2 separate regions of the Homo sapiens genome follow, and region 2 is linked to region 1. Evidence: fine-mapped expression QTL. A gene starts in region 1. The other region holds a variant in brackets. All regions are shown on one strand. Distances are between the middles of the regions. Region 1 holds the start of VDAC1 (voltage dependent anion channel 1). Region 2 has its middle 93 kb from the start of WSPAR.

Evidence for each region.
Region 2: its variant is fine-mapped to the expression of VDAC1 in stomach (GTEx, PIP above 0.99).

Annotation. Positions count from the first base shown.
Region 1 is chr5:134,000,902-134,009,231 of GRCh38, reverse strand. It overlaps VDAC1 (voltage dependent anion channel 1), which reads left to right and starts at 4,257. Exons shown (of 9, transcript NM_003374.3): 1 at 4,257-4,337. RefSeq lists enhancers at 3,414-3,483, 3,524-3,583, 3,654-3,773, 5,424-5,473, 5,484-5,533 and silencers at 3,944-3,993, 4,034-4,093, 4,154-5,193.
Region 2 is chr5:133,816,850-133,825,179 of GRCh38, reverse strand. It overlaps a transcript of FSTL4 not described here. Among named protein-coding and RNA genes, the nearest start is that of WSPAR, 93 kb to the left of the region's middle. RefSeq lists an enhancer at 311-360. The variant T/C (reference allele first, on the strand shown) is at 4,178.

The DNA of each region.
Region 1 (8,330 bases):
ATAAATACTTCATTAATACTTAATACATTTCTTTCCAATATTTGTCTCTCTGTGTATATATATACAAAATTCTTAAAAATCATAGCTATGATGTTGGAGCTTCTTGGAATTGTTTTAGATTAGATCTAGGACACCTCATGTTTTGGGATATGCAGGAGAATATTATCAATTGTGTTTACCTTGGGATGCTTTCTGTCCTGTTTCCCCAAGAGATTACTGCTGTCACTCAGAACCTGGAGGCCCAGCTGGGTCCTTCCCTGGATGCTGAGTGTCAGGGCACAGTGTGGGGAGTGTGGCCTGAGATCCTTGACCACAAACACGCCATCTTGATTCTTCCTACCCAGACTCTAGTCTGAGGAGTTCACTGGAAAATGATTGGAAAGTTAGGTTTTATGACAATGCAACTTTATAATCCAATTAATTGATGCTGGTTACAAGCAGAATATCTTTCTCTTTAAAAATTAATTTACATAAATGACTACCATTTCTGCCTTCATGAACTTCATCTTCAAGCTCTGGTACTTAGCACAGACAATGCTAAGAAACCACATAGAAATCCAGGGACATCTGGCTCTGAAAAGAGAAGAGTTGGGAGTGTTTCATCCTATGTTCTTGAAAGGGGGGTGGAATAGGTTTATGATTCTGATCATAAATTGGCTGCTTTCCACTTTGATAAATATCTACAGTAGAAGCCCTAAGGCTGTAAGTTAGAGATAAGACAAAAACCAAAAACTCCCTAAAATGAAATAGTCTTACATTGGTAACCCATTCCAATATTAACAATGAAAGAAAAATCTCATTTTCCCTGGATGTTTTACATTGTTCTTCTTGAATGGAGGAGAGGAACTGAGTTAGCATCTGGAAGAAAACAATCCAAACTGGACTAGGCAAAACAGGAGGCCGTTGGCTCAGGCAGCTGGTAAGTACAGGGTGTAGTCTCCGGCATGGCTAGATTCAGGACCTCATCTCTGCCTTTCTCTTATGGGCTTACTTCATTTTCAGGGAGTCTTTATTCCTGTAGCCCCAGGAATTCTCATCTGGTCTCATTGGTCCATCCCTGCGGGGCGGGGATCGGGGGCGGTGGGAGGCCAGGATGTGGGGGCGGAGAGGCGGGGGCAGGAGAGGTATACAGGGCTCTAATTGGTCAGACTGGGCCATGTGGCCACTCCCAGGAAGGCTTTGGAGTCAGGGATGGAGTCAGCTCCATGAAAGCTTGCTGACCAAAAGGAGAGGGAAACAGGGTCATTCGCCCAGAGAAAAACTGAGGTTAGGATTGTCCTGTCCCCACAAACCTCCTTCTCCACCCACCAAGATTTGACTGTCTTCGCCAGGGACTTGCTCTAGCTGGGTCAAGCTCAAGTGGGGTTATTGAAGTGGAACAGGGAAACCCACGCATGGCAAGAACAGGGGGGCACTCAAGGAACAGGGGCCCAGAGCCACCCTCTGCAGCGGCTGCTCCATTCTCTGTTCTGTGAAAAGCCCTCGTTAACTTCGCAACACCGACAGGGATGCCAGACCCAGGTCTCCCCAAGGGCCTTGAAAGCTCCCGCATTTTCCCCTCTGCCATACTCATCCCTGGGTTTCTCAGTTCAGGTTTGCAAGAGAGGATCTGATTGACCTGGCTTGGGTCAGGGGCCCAACCCTGACCCAATCAGCTGTGGCAGATGGAATGGAGGTGGGGCTCAGGGGGTTTCCCCTCTCCCTCAGGGTTGTGGTGGGTCAATGGATTCTAGTGATTATGGCACCTGCAGATCTCAGCTGATTTTGTTTTTTAAAAAATTACTAATACTATTTCTTGAGACGGGAACTTGCTCTGTGGTCCAGGCTGGAGTGCAGTAGTGGGATGCTAGCTCACTGCACCCTCGAACTCCTGGCCTCAAGCCATCCTACCTCCTTGGCCTCCCAAACAGTTGGGATTACCCACATGTGCCTCTGAGCCTGGCCCAGTTACTGATGAGTGCCTACTCTTTTTTCTTTTTTTTTTTTTTTGGCAGAGTTTCGCTCTTGTTGCCCAGACTGGAGTGTGATGGTGAGATCTTAGCTCACCGCAACCTCCGCCTCCTGGGTTCAAGCAATTCTCCTGCCTTAGCTTCACGAGTAGCTGGGATTATAGGCATGTGCCACCATGCCCGGCTAATTTTTGTATTTTTAGTAGAGACGGGGTTTCTCCATGTTGGTAAGGCTGGTCTCGAACTCCCGACCTCAGGTGATCCAGCCGCCTCAGCCTCCCAAAGTGCTGGGATTACAGGAGTGAGCCACTGCACGGGGCCGAGTGCCTACTCTTTATGTGTCCCATTTTAAACTTACACCAACACTCTGAAGCTGAGGCTCTTAGAGGCCAGCCTTCTTGCCTGGGTCACGCAGCCACTAAGTGAGTGGTTAATCTGAAACTAGCACCTAGGGGAGCTGGCGAAGGGGCCCAGGGTAGCAGAGGCCATGAAGAACTCTTTCCAAGTTGTTGTTTTTTTTTGTTTTTTTTTTTTGGGGGGGGGGGACAATGTCACTCTGTCAGTCAGGCTGGAGTACAGCGGCTCAATCTCAGCTGACTCCAGCCTCCTCCTTCCAAGTTCAAGCGATTCTCGTGCCTCAGCCTCCTGAGTAGCTGGGACTACAGGCGCGCGCCACCACGCCCGTCTAGTTTTTGTATTTTTAGTAGAGACAGGGTTTTGCCATGTTGCCCAGGCTGGTCTCGAAGTCCTGGCCTCAAGTGATCTGCCTGTCTCGGCCTCCCAAAGTACTAGGATTACAGGCTTGAGCCACTGCACCCGGCCCAGATTGGTTCTTTAAAGCGGAGTTGAGAGGTGGCGCTGGAGGGGAGGAAGCCCTTCGACATTTGCTCCCAGCCTCAAAACTGGGTTGCACCGGCATCTGTTCCTAGCCCTGTGGGGTTCCTGGAGCCCCGCCTTGTCCCGCCCGGCCTCCCTGAGTTCTTGTCCTCCCCCTGCCCACCAGTCTCAGTGTGCGGGGTGGGGACCACCAGGCTGGGAAGCCCAGAGTTCCCAGGCAACTCGTGCGCCTGGGAGGGTCATAGAATCCGTCCTACACTCCTCAGGATCTTGAAGGGGGCTCTTCCTTACATTCCCAGTCACCCCTCCCCCAGCCCCTACACAGGGCCTAGGTAACCTGTCTGCACCCCACTCCCACTCTGTATCAGCTGCCCTCTTCCTCAGCACCCTATCCCACTGGAGCACCTTTTCCAACTCCAGTCGCCACTTTTAATCTGCCGCCTTTTCCCAGCAGCCAGTCCTGATTGCCTCCTCCGTAGCCCCAGTTGCCCACTGCTTTAGATAGTGTCGCAGCTGGCTGTGAGGAGTGTCCTGATTCTGTAACCCGGCACCTCCTCCACAGGGCCCTAGACGCCTCAAGCCTTCCAGGACGTTTGTTGATCAAAGGCGAAGGATGTGTAGAATCTTCGTCCATCTACGAATTAATTCTCGAAACCTGCTTCGAGTGGGCCTCGCGCGTAACACAGGGGACACTCAGTGGTGAACGAGACCACTCGCTTAGGCCTAGCAGCGAGGTGACCGTTCACTCAACACACACTAACTGGGTCCCGCAGGACACGCCCCGGCTGGTCGCGGGGGTTACCCGGGGTGCCCTCAGTCGGCCGGCCGGCCATAACCGGCGTGATCTCCTCGCGCCGAGAGACCCAGCAGGGACCTCGCAAAACCCAATCCACGTTTTGTTTTATTTTGTCTTTTTGCCTCTCAAATGCATGGAAATTGGCTGCTAGTAGCTTTGCTACAGGAGAAAATCGCTAATCTGTAGTGCAAAATCGGCGCACAGGGGTTTTCTCTGAGATTGTCTAGACGCCGCGCGGGCGGGTCGGAGGCGCCAGACACATTGTATCCGGAGCGCGGAGCTCGGGAGCAACAGTCGCCGCCTCTACTCTGTATCTGCGCCGCCCCAGGCGCCCAGTGTCCGCGCTGGGCCTGGGACTGCCCTCGGGGGATGGGGCCCACGCGGGCTTTGATGGGGGGCCGGGGGCCACTTTGTCCACCCAGGCGAGGCTTGGGTCCAGCGCCGGCCACATCAACTCCCGGGGGATCTAGCAGCGCGGAGGCCAAGCAGGAGGCCCAGGAGCCCCGCGCGTCTTCCATTAGCGCAGGGACCTCCGGGCCACAGCTCAGAGAATCGGAAGGCCTCCTCCCCCTTCCCGAGCGCTGCCACTGGGGCCGAGGTTTCCAGCAAGAACCCGCGTGTCCCTGCGCACGCACACACGGTGCACACGTCAGTCCGGCGCCTCCCCGTGCCCCGACTCACGCAGGTCCTCCCGCGCGCCCGCAACACGCCCGCAGGCTCCTGTGTCTGCTGCCGGGGCAGCGGGGCCCGGAAGGGTAAGAACGCGGCTCGCTAGCGGGATGGGGACCCTGGCCCGGCCTGGACGCTGTCCCGGGCGGGGCCTGGGGGCGGAGCGCGCCGGGCCGGGCGCGCAGGAGGGGAGGCGGGTCCGCGCCGCCGCCGTCCGCGCCGCCCCGCCCTTGGCCCAGCCGCTCGCTCGGCTCCGCTCCCTGGCTCGGCTCCCTGCCTCCGCGTCGCAGCCCCCGCCGTAGCCGCCTCCGAGCCCGCCGCCACATCCTCTGAGGTAGGCGCAGCGGAAAAGGACCCCGGCTTCCTTGCGCCCTGGACGGCGGGGGCCAGGCCCCTGGGGAGCTGAGAGGGAGGCGCTGAGGGAGGAGCGGGCGAGGGGCCCCGGCAGCCCGGCCGCGGGGAGGGATCGCGAGCGGCCGGCGCGGGCCTGGCTGGTGAGCGGGCGGGCAGAGAAGGCCGCACAGGCGGGTGCCGAACAGGTCTGGGCTGGGGAGCGCGAGGCCGAGGGTCCAGAGACGCCTGCGGCTGGCGGCGAGAGGCGGCCCGGGCTTGCGGGCGGAAGTGCAAGGGCGGCCGCGTGGAGGCCCGGCGGGCCGCGCGTCTAGGTGACCTTCCCCGGCGGCGCCCTCTGGCCCTGGATCCCACCAGCGTGCATCCGGCGGGGACCCGTTCGCCGCCCACGCTCGCCGGACCAGGCCAGCGGGCGGGTGCCGGCCACGCTGCCGCCTCGGGGATGAGCTCACGTGACGACCGTGGCCCCGAGTCCCCAGGCCCACGCGCCCTGGCCGGCCCACGCCCGCAGAAGCTGGCGCCCGGCACCGCCCGCCTGTGCCAGAGCCTTCTAGAGCGGAACGCGCCGGCCGAGAGTCGACTTAGGCGGTAGAGGCCGGAGCTCGGGCCTGGGCTGAAGGTTTGGCCTCGGAAAAGGAGGCCCCACGGGGAAGGATGTGGCCTTCTTGGTCTTAGGAGTGATTACTGGTTCGGTCGTTCATTCATTCGCCAAATGCGGCGGTGCATTCTGGAAACTGTTTCGGAGCCTGACTTTGGATTAGAGGCCCGCAGTCTTAGTGGTTTGTACAAGGTCACACAGCTGGGAAGTCCCCATACCTTCGTTTTCTCATCTATAGGACGGGAGCAATTGTACCTCTCCTTCGATGAGTTTTGGGGAATAATAAAATGAATTAATTAGCATGAAACCTTTAGAACAGTGCCGGTGTGGAGAAGGGCTAAGTAGAAACCCTGACACCCTTGGGGCTTTTTGGGTGAATCCAGCCCATCCCCCGCAGACCATTTTGCTACACGTGGCGTTGTGGAAGGGGTTCAATAAATGTAGCTCCTGTTTTTAAACATTCTTTCACTATTATTGACAAGCATTTGTATACCAGGTATTGAGTAACTTTCAGCTTAATTTATGAAAAATCTTGTAAGTTTACAAATGGACATTGTCAAGCTGGAGCAGTAAGTTTGCATGTGGAGATCTTGAATGCAGGAGCAGACCCTGGTTTAGAGCCCGTTCCGCCCGGGGTCCCTGTCCCCTTGACTAGCCTCCCCTCTCCTGGGGAGATAGGGGAAAGGGCTCCTCTGTTGCCTAAACTTCTCCACTGAGGCAGGAGAAGGCCAGAGCAGACTACCGAGGGCCAGCCTTCATTCTGCCCACCCCAGCTCTGGACCAACTCAGCTCCTAAGGGTCAGACTGAGGCACTGAGGCCCTGTGCTACTTTGTCTTCAGTGCCTGGGGTGGTGCTGCCTGGCACACAGTAGGTGCTTGAGAAGGGTCTGTGGGGGTAAATGCACTCTTGTGTCAGAATCCACCCATCTTTACTGACAGAGTTTTACTATTCCAGTACATGGCCCATAGTAGGTGCTTATTGAGTATTTGTGGAATTATTGAATGGGCATATGAAGGGCTGCAGGCCCAGACCATAGTCCTTTGATCCTGGACTTTTTTTTTTTTTGAGACAGGGTCTTGCTCTGTTGCCAGGTCTGGAGCGCGGTGGCACCATAACGGCTCATGGCAGCTTCTGTTTCCTGGGTTCAGGCAATCCTCCCACCTCAGCCTCACAGAGTATCTGGGATCCCAGGCACACACCACCACGCCTGGCTAATTTTTGTATTTTTAGTAGAGTCGGGGTTTCACCATGTTTGCCAGGCTGATCTCAAACTCCTGGCCTCAAGCAATCCACCCGCCTCCGCCTCCCAAAGTGCTGGGATTACACGCGTGAGCCACCATGCCCGGTCCTGGACATCCTTTTGAGGGACACAGACATCTCACTTGTGGAAAACAGCCTCACCTAGCAGAGAGTCACAAATATTTAAAGAACTGTAACAGTATGTATAGTCTCTTGAAATAAGTGCTTTAAACACATCGTCTTCATTCTCTGGTTTTCCAAGTCCCGAGGGAAACTTGTTGAACTGGTGTTTCTGGGCTTGCAGGGAGGGTGACATGGGTGACTGGGATTCTACAGAAGGTGTTGGGCCTGTTACCCCTTCCCTCATGGTGGGTGGATGGACAGCTTGTGCTGGGGTTGTCCTGAGTAGGGTGCCTGCCTGTGGGTAGTGGGGACTACTCCTTGTTGATTATTTAGTTTTATTTTTGCTATTCTAGAGTGGGGCTATAGGCAGGGGTTATTCGTAGCTCAGAAAGTGGGGGACCATACAGGGATGAGGTGCCTGTGGGCCCCTGGCCTTGCTGAACACTAGGCAGGTGTGGACAGTGAACTCCATGCTGGGGAGGTGAAGGGCATCCAACCTCTACCCTTACCAGGAAGATGCTCCTGAAGCACTGAAGTCCACTTCGCCTTTGATGGAATTTCCCGTGGTGTAGTGTCTTCGGTGGTAGTGACTGGAAGAGGCGCATGTGTGGTTGAGGACCAGCCGAAGCTTGGAGGCAGCCCCTCCTGGTGCTCAGAGATTCTGTAGTCTGCGGCTTTGGGTTTTCCATGGAGTCCTGTGGTAGCCACTGAGAAAAGTTGACCAGTGGGCTCCTCAGCTGGGTCTGGGCGCATTTCTCCATTTTACCACGTACTCAGGGGGTTTGGGATGAGTGGGACTTTAAGTTCTTTACTCAGAACTGTGCTGGAAAGAGCACTGGAGAGTAGCTTAGGCCCATAACACAGGTCTGGTGAGCCATAGGGTCGGTCTCATACAGGTCAAGTCACTGTCTTGTGCCTCAGTTTCTCTCTCTCTTTTTTTTTTTTTTTTTTTTAGATGGAGTCTCACTCTGTTGCCCAGGCTGGAGTGCAGTGGTGCAATCTCGGCTCCCTGCAATCTCTACCTCTCGGGTTCAAGCAAGTCTCTGCCTCACCCTCTCGAGTAGCCGGGATTACAGGCGCCTGCCACCATGCCTGGCTAATTTTTTTGTATTTTTTAGTAGAGATGGGGTTTCACCATCTTGGCCAGGTTGGTCTTGAACTCCTGACCTCCTGATCCACCCGCCTCGGCCTCCTAAAGTGCGGGGATTGCAGGTGTGAGCCACTGAGCCCGGCCGAGTTTGTCTGCTATAAAAGTATGATTGTCGTCATTACAGTGATTGCTGATTGAGGGCTTGCTCAGCACCTTTCTGGGGGCTCAACGAATGTTCTGTGATGTTGAGTTCACCACCCTATACCCTGGGAGAGAGATAGTGTGTTTCCATTTCACAGGTCAGCAGACTCGAGCACAGAGAGGTGAGGTAACACAGCCTGGCAGGAGTGGAGTTGGGATTCAAGGCCTGGTCTGAATGGTGGTGCTCTCACATTGCAGTTGCACTCCAAGGGACCCTTGCAAGGTGCTAACAGATGTGAATGCCTTTTGGAAAGTCAAAATTGGTGTTCAGATGGGAGACATTATTTTTCCACACCAGTCAGAGTGAACTTGTGCATGGCTGTGTGCGGGCCAACTGGCAGTGGACAATGGAGTCACCTCTATTTCTTGCAAGGACAGTGGTGCTGAGTGTCTATTATAAGGGTCCGTTTTCCCTGGGATCTGGTGGGAGGCATTCTTTCAGGACCTGTTCAGCTAAACAATGCCTCATTGTGGAC
Region 2 (8,330 bases), 180 kb after region 1:
ACCTGAGGCCTGGTTTTAACTGGTTTTGACTCCTGAGTCTCTGTGTGAGTGCAGCGAGGCACTGAGTCCCTGAGTGACCTCAGTGTCTCTGTGAAGTGAGGAGGTGGAGCCAGGCCACTGAGCCTCTTCATCTCTGCCACCACGGACTCTTGCCCTGTGGTTGTAATGAATGATTCCAGGGACACCAGGAAAAGGTGGGCAGGAAGCTGTGGTGCCCTCTCTATTTTTACACACAGCCACCCTCTGAAGGGGATTCACGCTGTGATTTATTAACTTGTCTGTCTGTGGAGTTGGGTGTCTTGGTGGGAGTCCTGGACTCAGGTACCATTTAGCAACCTTGAGAGTTCAAAGGGCTCAGCCATTGGACATGGTATGTGGTGGTTTCCCGGTGCATGCCTGGCTCCACCTCTCCCCTGCTCAAGGATGCCTGCGTGCTTTGGGCAGGAAAAGCCAAACTTGGTTGCTTTGGCAACAGGGGTCTTGGTGAGAAGCTGGTACACAAGCAGGTGCTTCCAGTGTGCCAGAGAAAGGCACAGGGCCTTCTTCGCCCCGAGTCTTCTTACTTCTCTGATGGAGCTGAGTCATGCATCACCTCTTGTTTAATGGTGGTGAAATATACTCAGGTACTCTGATACTGTGAAATATACATTTGGTCTTCATCTCCCTTTCCTGGCAAGAGATCCTGAAGCCCTGGAATCTCTAGAGGGATATGAGTGTCTTTTGTCTGCTTCTGAGATGGCTGGTGGCCCCTAAATAGCCTCAGGATGGGGGCACATGCCTTGTTCTGTGGATCTCTTTCACCTGGATTAAACTGGTAAATGTAAGTAAAGCGTTTCCCTGAGTTCTGTGAGCTGCTATAGCAGATTAATCGAACCCAAGGAGGGGGCTGTGGGAACCCTCATTTATAGTGGGTCCATCAGAAGCATAGGTGGCAACCCACTATTTATGATTGGCATCTGGAGTGGGAGCAGTCCTGTGGGATCTGATGCTCTCTCCAGGTAGACAGTGTCAGAACTGAATTGAAGAAGAGGACACCCAGCTGGTGTCTGCTAGAGAATCACCTACAGAATTGCGTGGTGTGTGAGAAAACCCTCCCATGCATCTGGTGTCAGAAGTATTGTCTTGAGTGCCTGGGTGGTGTGGGGGTAGAGGGAAAAACACTTTGGTCTTTGTCCCGTCTCTTCAAAGGTATTTGTCTCAGAACACTAGAAGTGGCTTTCAAACATCTATCTAGCAGCAACATTCTTTAAAAAATTAAACCTTAGAAGGAAACTCAATATGTAAGACAAAGAAAAGGGGAGCTGTTCTGCAGCGGGGAGTTGCAGCCCTCCCATCTGGCCCTTTCTCCCCAGGGGCAGGCTGGCTTTGGAGGGGGCATGAGGACTTCCCCATGCCCCAGTTCCAGGGTATGCTGACCTTGGTCAGAAAGCCACCCAATCAGCCTCCTCATTTTACAACAGAGGGACTTGAGACAAGAGAGGGGAGTGGACTGGTCCATGTGTCCCAGCAGGCTCCTGGCCAAGCAGGACTCCCCTGGTTTCCAGCTTGGTGGAGGAGTGGGGAAGGAGACAGGGGCACTCTGTCCGGGACACCATACTGCCTCTCTGGGAGCTATTCTCAGACCTGCTGGGTGTTTGAGTCTCTGACATCCTGAGGATCTGGCTTCCAGTGAGATCTCCCCTCTGTGTGACAAGTCCCCTAAGACTGACTTTCAGACTAAGGCCTCATCACTCCCTCTGTCCAAGGGGGCCCAAACCAGCCCCTGGAGAGGAGGAGAGTGCAGGGCTGGGGAGAGATTCTGGGTACAGGGGCATGATTTGGGGCTGTGCTGAAGTCCTTTCCTGTGGAATGTAATTGTTGCTCAGGGGACCAGCAGGGCTGCTGTGGGACACCCTCTTCTGATGTTTTAATTTCAACTTATTTCCTGGGGTGCTGAAGCTACTTTTGAGAGGAGCTGATTGGGACCTATGAATGGCCCAGGAGCACCTGGTGGTGACCAGCTCTGGGCTCTGCTTTCTTTTCCTGTTTTGTTCTTGCCCATCCAGAAGTTCTTGACTTCTTGCCTTGAAGGTTTGTCTCCTGAACGCTATGGCACTTGATCACCTTCTAATGTACCATATGCTTTACCTGTTTACTTTGTCTATTGTTCATGGTCTGTTTCCATGCCCATGCCCCCAACCCCACCTCCTGCCCCCACATGAAAGCTACTCCAGGGCAGAGAGACTGTCTGATTTGTTCACTGCTGTAGTTTAGGTAAGATCTCTATGGATATTGTTAAAAGGACACATGAATAAATGAATCACATTTCCTTCCCACATATCTTCAGACTTCTGGCAGAATTACCTCTGGGAGGTAATTCTCTACTCTTTGTTTTTTGGTTTTGGGCTTCCTTTTGCATGGCGTTAGAGTTCGTGGGTCCGAAAAAGGATGTTTAATATCTGCTGAAGGACTAAAAACTATTTATTAAAGATGGGATTCATATTCTTGTTGAAATGTTGCCTTTCCAGGAGCATCGGTGCGTGTGCCTTTCCATGACGCCCCCGGAATGTTCACATCCTTAGCTTTCTGGCTTCACCAGGGACCCTCCCTGATTTCCCACGGCTCCACCCTCACCTTCCTTAGATTTCTGCAGTTTTAAAGTCTACTCTCCCATCTCAGTAATGAAGAAATAAACAATGGTTCTGTGTGTGACCCCTGATTTTAATTGGATTTCAGAGCAATTTTGAATGAATGAATGAAGTTTCTGGGCTCTGAGAATATGCTCTTCAAATAATGAGCTGAAACGATTACATTAATTTCCTAAGGATCTATTCCTTCCTCTGCTCAGATTATTTGCAGACACTGGTCAATGCTGCATATAAATTGAGGTCTCAAAAGGCTAACTTAACAATTAATCGGAAGCATCTCCAAGCCCCTAAAAATTGAAATAGCTCCACAAATGGAAGAGGAAATCTACCTTCAGAGACCTCTTGTTATTAAAGATGTGCACTTTGGATACATCAAGGGATTCTGGGGTGAACTCTGTTTATCAGGGTCCAGGGGGCGAGGAGTGTTCATACATCAAAGACATAATTCTAAGCATTTTGTCATATCAGCTTTTCTCTTTGTTCTTGCAATGCAGAGTCTTGGAGGCAAGTCATCTTTGTCACTCAAGAAGTGCAGGAGGTTTGATTGAGAAATATGCCTGAGTGTGACCCCCCAGGGTCACTTGTCTTCATTCTTCCCTTCTCACTGTGCCCCCGTTGGGCTCCCATAAGACCCTTGGCATCTGATCCTCCTGCCTTTTGTGTTCCTCCTCCTTGCACCGCTACGTTCCTGGCAACTGAATTTCCGACCAGTCTCCTTTTCTCTGGTATCTCACTCCTTGTCCTTTCTGAGCATGTTGCCTGGGGTCATAATTATCCTGCTCAAGAATCCTTAGTGACTCCCTAATAAACCCATGGGATGAAGTAGGAGCTCCTCCCTGCTGGCTTCTGGGCCCTGTTGGATCCAGTCCTGCGCCTCCTCCACAGTGCCCTCTTCCCTGTCCCCACATGTGCTCAACTCTCCACTTGAGCTGGAGTCTTCATAGCACCTCTCACCCCTGAGCACACACACTGCCAATTCCTGCCTCTGGACTCTTGTTCCCACTGTTTCTAGAGTGGCCCATGTTACTTATTGTCCCAATCAGGATTATTCTGGTAAGGAAAAGGGACACTGTTAATAATTAATGCTGGAACAGTGGGTGTAAATTGAATTGTCCCAGCAAGCCAGGACATGTGGTCACTGGGGCTGCGTCCTACCCCTGTTTGCTTTCACTTTTCATCTTCATTCTCCCTCCTGCTAAATTCAGCTTCTGTCTCTTTCATCCTTGATGGCTCATTTCCAGGGAGGGTCTGTCTTTAGCTCAGGCTGATCAAGAACCAGATGAGAAGGAAAACTTGACCTTTTGCTGAAGGCATGATGTTAGCATGAAACCCTCAAGAAATTCTGTGACTAATCAGAAGAATATTATTTTTTCTAAAGAAAGGGTCTTCTTCCTTTAATCAGTATTTTTACAATTTAATAATTTCTTTCTTTCCTTACCTCCTTGTGGACTTTTCAAAGCTTGGCAACAGCCTATGAGATAGTTTGTATTAAGCTTTTAAAGGGATACATTATAACAAGTTTTCAGAAAATGTATAGTTTTCAAACACAA[T/C]CAATGTTTTCTTGTATAACTTCCCTTCAAATCCGAAACATCTCCTATTACCACCCTTTTCTGAAAATAGCAGCTTATTTATTAGAATACACTATCAATAACATACATTGCATTGTTTTCTAATAGTTTAATGTATCTTTTTTCCCTCCAACAAGTTGAGAAGTCCCCAGGGAGAGGATATAAGATATTACATGTCTTGGTTCTTCCTTGGTCCCTAGCTCAGGGCTGGCCACAAACAGTTGGTTTCTGCTCTTCAGTTGCCTGCAAGAGTAAGTGAAACATGAAGCCTAAATTCCAACACTTACGAAAGCTAAAGCTGCACTTGACTCCGGGTTTGGCGAATGTTGCAGAGTTGGGAGCCTGTCACATTGTTCTTCCTGTAAAGTAACTATTTTCTCTCTGTTGTACAGAGGATAGCAAACACTGCAATGTATAAATCACAGACATGAAATTGAAAGACCATGTACATGATCCACAGAGAAAAATATACATAAGTGGAGTAGGGAATAAGGAGGTTATGCGGGTACCAGACAAGCCTCTGGTTTCAAGGGTGCTTCCCTCCCAAAGGGAAGAAAAACAATGTTGTAACCAGGAAGAATGTGCCCTCACAGCTGATGGCACTATAATAGCATAAACAATGACAAGTTCCATAAACGTCACAAATGTGGGAATTTGCCTTGAAGTTCCTTCTGGGATCTAATTTAAAGGCACATCTTGTTGAAACGGAGGTCATGAGGGAAGCAGAAATAAGTGGAGAGAAATGCAGCGTGACAGCTGGACCCTCCCAGCCGGCCCGGGGAAGCTGTGCTGCTCTGTGGGGAAGGACTTCTGGGGGAGGAGGCATGGGTGGAAAGGGGCCCTGGAGGACACAGGCCTCTGCGACTGCAACCCCTCAGGCCTGCTGACACGAGGCACTGCAGAACCTGCGCCGTGCCGTGCTGGGAAGAGGATTTGGAGCAAGAAGACCCAAGTTTGAGTCTTCCTTCTGCCGTTTTCTATAGTTGTGTGACCTTGAGCAAGTCAGTGTACCTATGAGCGGCCACCTCCTCATGTGAAAAATGGAGCTGAAACTAATGCCCGATGGGGCTGCTGTGAGGACTAAACGCAGCAGCCCCATCTCCAAGGGCAGGGAGGGTGGCTGCCACACTGTCATTTGATTAACAAGGAGGTGCTGGCCAGGAGCAGTTGATGTGGAGGTCCCTCAGCCTGAATATTCTTTATGTGCAAGGCTTCATTCAGGATTTTAGTTTTTGAAAAACAGACTATTCCTTTTCTTCTTTAAAATCAGAATTGGAAATTTGAATGTGGAAACAGGAGGTCTCATCTGGAACAATGCGTGGGCAGCCCGGTTTCATCTTGATCTGTGGATGTATTGTGAATTTCTCGGGTCACCTAAACCTGCCTGCGCCTCCAACGGTGCTATGAGTTTAGCAAGTGAAGAGCACACAAACAGATGCTTAAATTATAGCCTACAGTTCAGTGCACCCCTCAGGCTGAGTGTCGTTGCACAGAGAGGGTGAAGAGCCTTGTGCGGGTTCCAGGAGGTCAGAGAGGCTCCTGAGAGCTCAGCAATGACACCTCCATGCTTCTCAGCCACTGAGCAGAGTGGAGGAGCAGGGTGTGAGCAGGGAGCAGACAGAGGCTTGGTGGTCCGGGCATTCCTGAAACCTGCATCTAAAAACTCAGAAGGGAAGGCTTCCTCCCAAGGGCCCTGCACCCAAAAGCTGTTCCTGTCCCTTGCCCAGGCTGGGAGAGACAGAGGGCATGCCTGTTTATTTTCAAAGTGAAGTTGACTTCACTTTCTTGTTCTAGGTGGTTCTTATTTTAGCTGAACCTTGTGCAGTCTCTCTCCAGGGTTGGAGGGAAGTGTTTCATGTGTACGCAAGGCAGGGAAACAGCAGGTTCCGACCCAGCATTGAGAAAGGATTGGGGAAGCTATGTGTGTGGGCGGTGGGCATGTGGGTGGACGGCTGGGCAGATCTCCTTCGTTCTAGAAATTCTGCTGATCTTCCTGGAAATTGTGTGTGTGTGCATGCGTACGTGTGTGTGTGTGTACATATATATATATATAGTATCTTCTAAAACATCTTCTCCTGGACTTTGTTGGAAGAGAAGGGCTGGGTGGGGGGCTTTAAGCTGAGTCCTTGTCTGAGATGAGTGAGGTTCTTTTGTGCTCAGAACTGTGGTACAATTCATCCTCAAAAAGGAATCTGAATTGAAAGGGGATTTGGTGTGAGGCAGGGGAAGGTGTAGGGGTGCATAGATCTGTTCATTAGGGCAGATTAAAGTCAAGCCTCCCCTGAAATTGGTGGAAAGTGCTTGCAGCCCTCTGTGGTTTGGAAGATTATGCAGCTATCACAATGCACTTCGTGAGTAGGCTGTGGGGGCTGGATTTAATTTTATGTCCGCCGGGAGATTCTGGCAGTGTGTTTCTGTGGTGGGGAATCATTATTTACAATGAAACACTTACACAGAAGTAGTAAAGTTAATGGAGGTTTCAGTGGAATTAGCCTTGTTAAGTTCCCCAGTGACACAGCCGGCTCCCCTCTCCAGTAGCTGGATCCAGCAAGGAGGCAGCACACAGAGCTAGTGGAGTTTAGGATGTGGATGAAATTGGGAGTGACCCAAAGCAGCAAGACCCAGGCCTTCAGTACTGGCCTGCAGCTGGGCTCTGTGATGGGGCTGCTTCTCTGGCCAACAGCCCCTGCATGGCCATGCTGTGTGTTCCCAGTCCTGGCAGCTCCTTGCAGAGTAAATGCTGTTAATCCACGGCCCATTGTTGACTCTTGCTGCTGCTATCAGAATTTCTGGGACCTGGAGCATGCTGAGGGCTGTGATGAGGTAAGATGTGATTCATCCCCGTGCTCACGTTCCCTAAAGGGGTGACAAGGCTGCACCACGTGGAAGGAGAGTCATTCAGGTGGGCCACATGCCATGAGATTCTTGGATCGAAGTTCTCTTGGATAAGGTTGCCATGTTTACTCCCAGTTCCCTGGCTTAGGAGCCAGGCAGATATGGGTTTGAATCCAGATTCTACTGGATGACCTTGAACATGTCATGTGTATTCTCAAGATTCATTTTCTTTATCTTTAAAATGGGGCCACTGTTTTTGCTGGCATCATAGGTTGTTAGGAGGATGATGTGACTTAGGGTATGGAAAGCACTTAGTACTGTGCCAGGTCATGCTGTTTCTTTATTCTCTGTCCCAGCTTTCACCTGCCCCTCCATACTCTGTATTTCTGGGCCAGAACACCCACAGACTGCATTTTCTGGGCTCCCTTTCCAGGTGGCTCCCTGCCAAGTTCTGCCCATGGGAGGTCAGAGGGCTGGAAGAGAGAAGAGCCTTCCTTCTTCCTCATTCTCTTGCTCTTTGTCTTCTTCTTCTAGGGGTGTCTCCGAGGCAGGGGCAGCTGTGGCCCTTCCTCCATGCTGCCAGCTCCTGGGACAGAAGCCGGTCCTCTTACACTTCAGGTCTAGGTCACATTATCTCTTGCCTTTGTGACTCCCAGCCCTTGGGGAGATATTGGCTTCCTGCATTACCTAATCTTTGGTCACCCTATCTTCCTTCTTACTGTCACCACACCTGGTAAGCAATTCACTATGTGAAAGCTCCTCTATTTGAAGGACCTAGAATGGCTTCTGTTTCCTTGACCGGACTGTGACTGATACAGTGGAACTCCCATTAGTTATAACAAGTGCATGGCCTTGGAGTCAGACAAGACAAGGTTTGCACACCCTGGCTCCACTCCTTACTTGCAGTGTGACCTGAGCCTCTGTGTTTGCATCCATTAAATGGGGACGATAATAGACTCAGCTTCGCAGGGCTGTCGCGAGGATTTAAAAAGATAACAATAGAAGTGAAAAGCTTAACACAGCGGGGTAGTGAACATCAACACATGAGAGTTTGTTTCTAGATGTGTGTGTTGCTTTCTCAGGTTGGCCCAGGAGTGTTGGGGATGCCACTGGGAAGGGCAAGTGAGGCAGTGGGCCTGGGCCTGGGTATCTGTGGGCAGCAAGGAGCCATGGGAGGCTTGAATGGGGGCTGCCTGGAGTACAGCAGTCTTTACACCCCTGATCTCCCTGCCGCTTCCTCCCAGTTTGGTTCAGAGCTTCAGCTAAGCAGCAGAGGCTAGGCCCTCCCTGGGGCCACCTG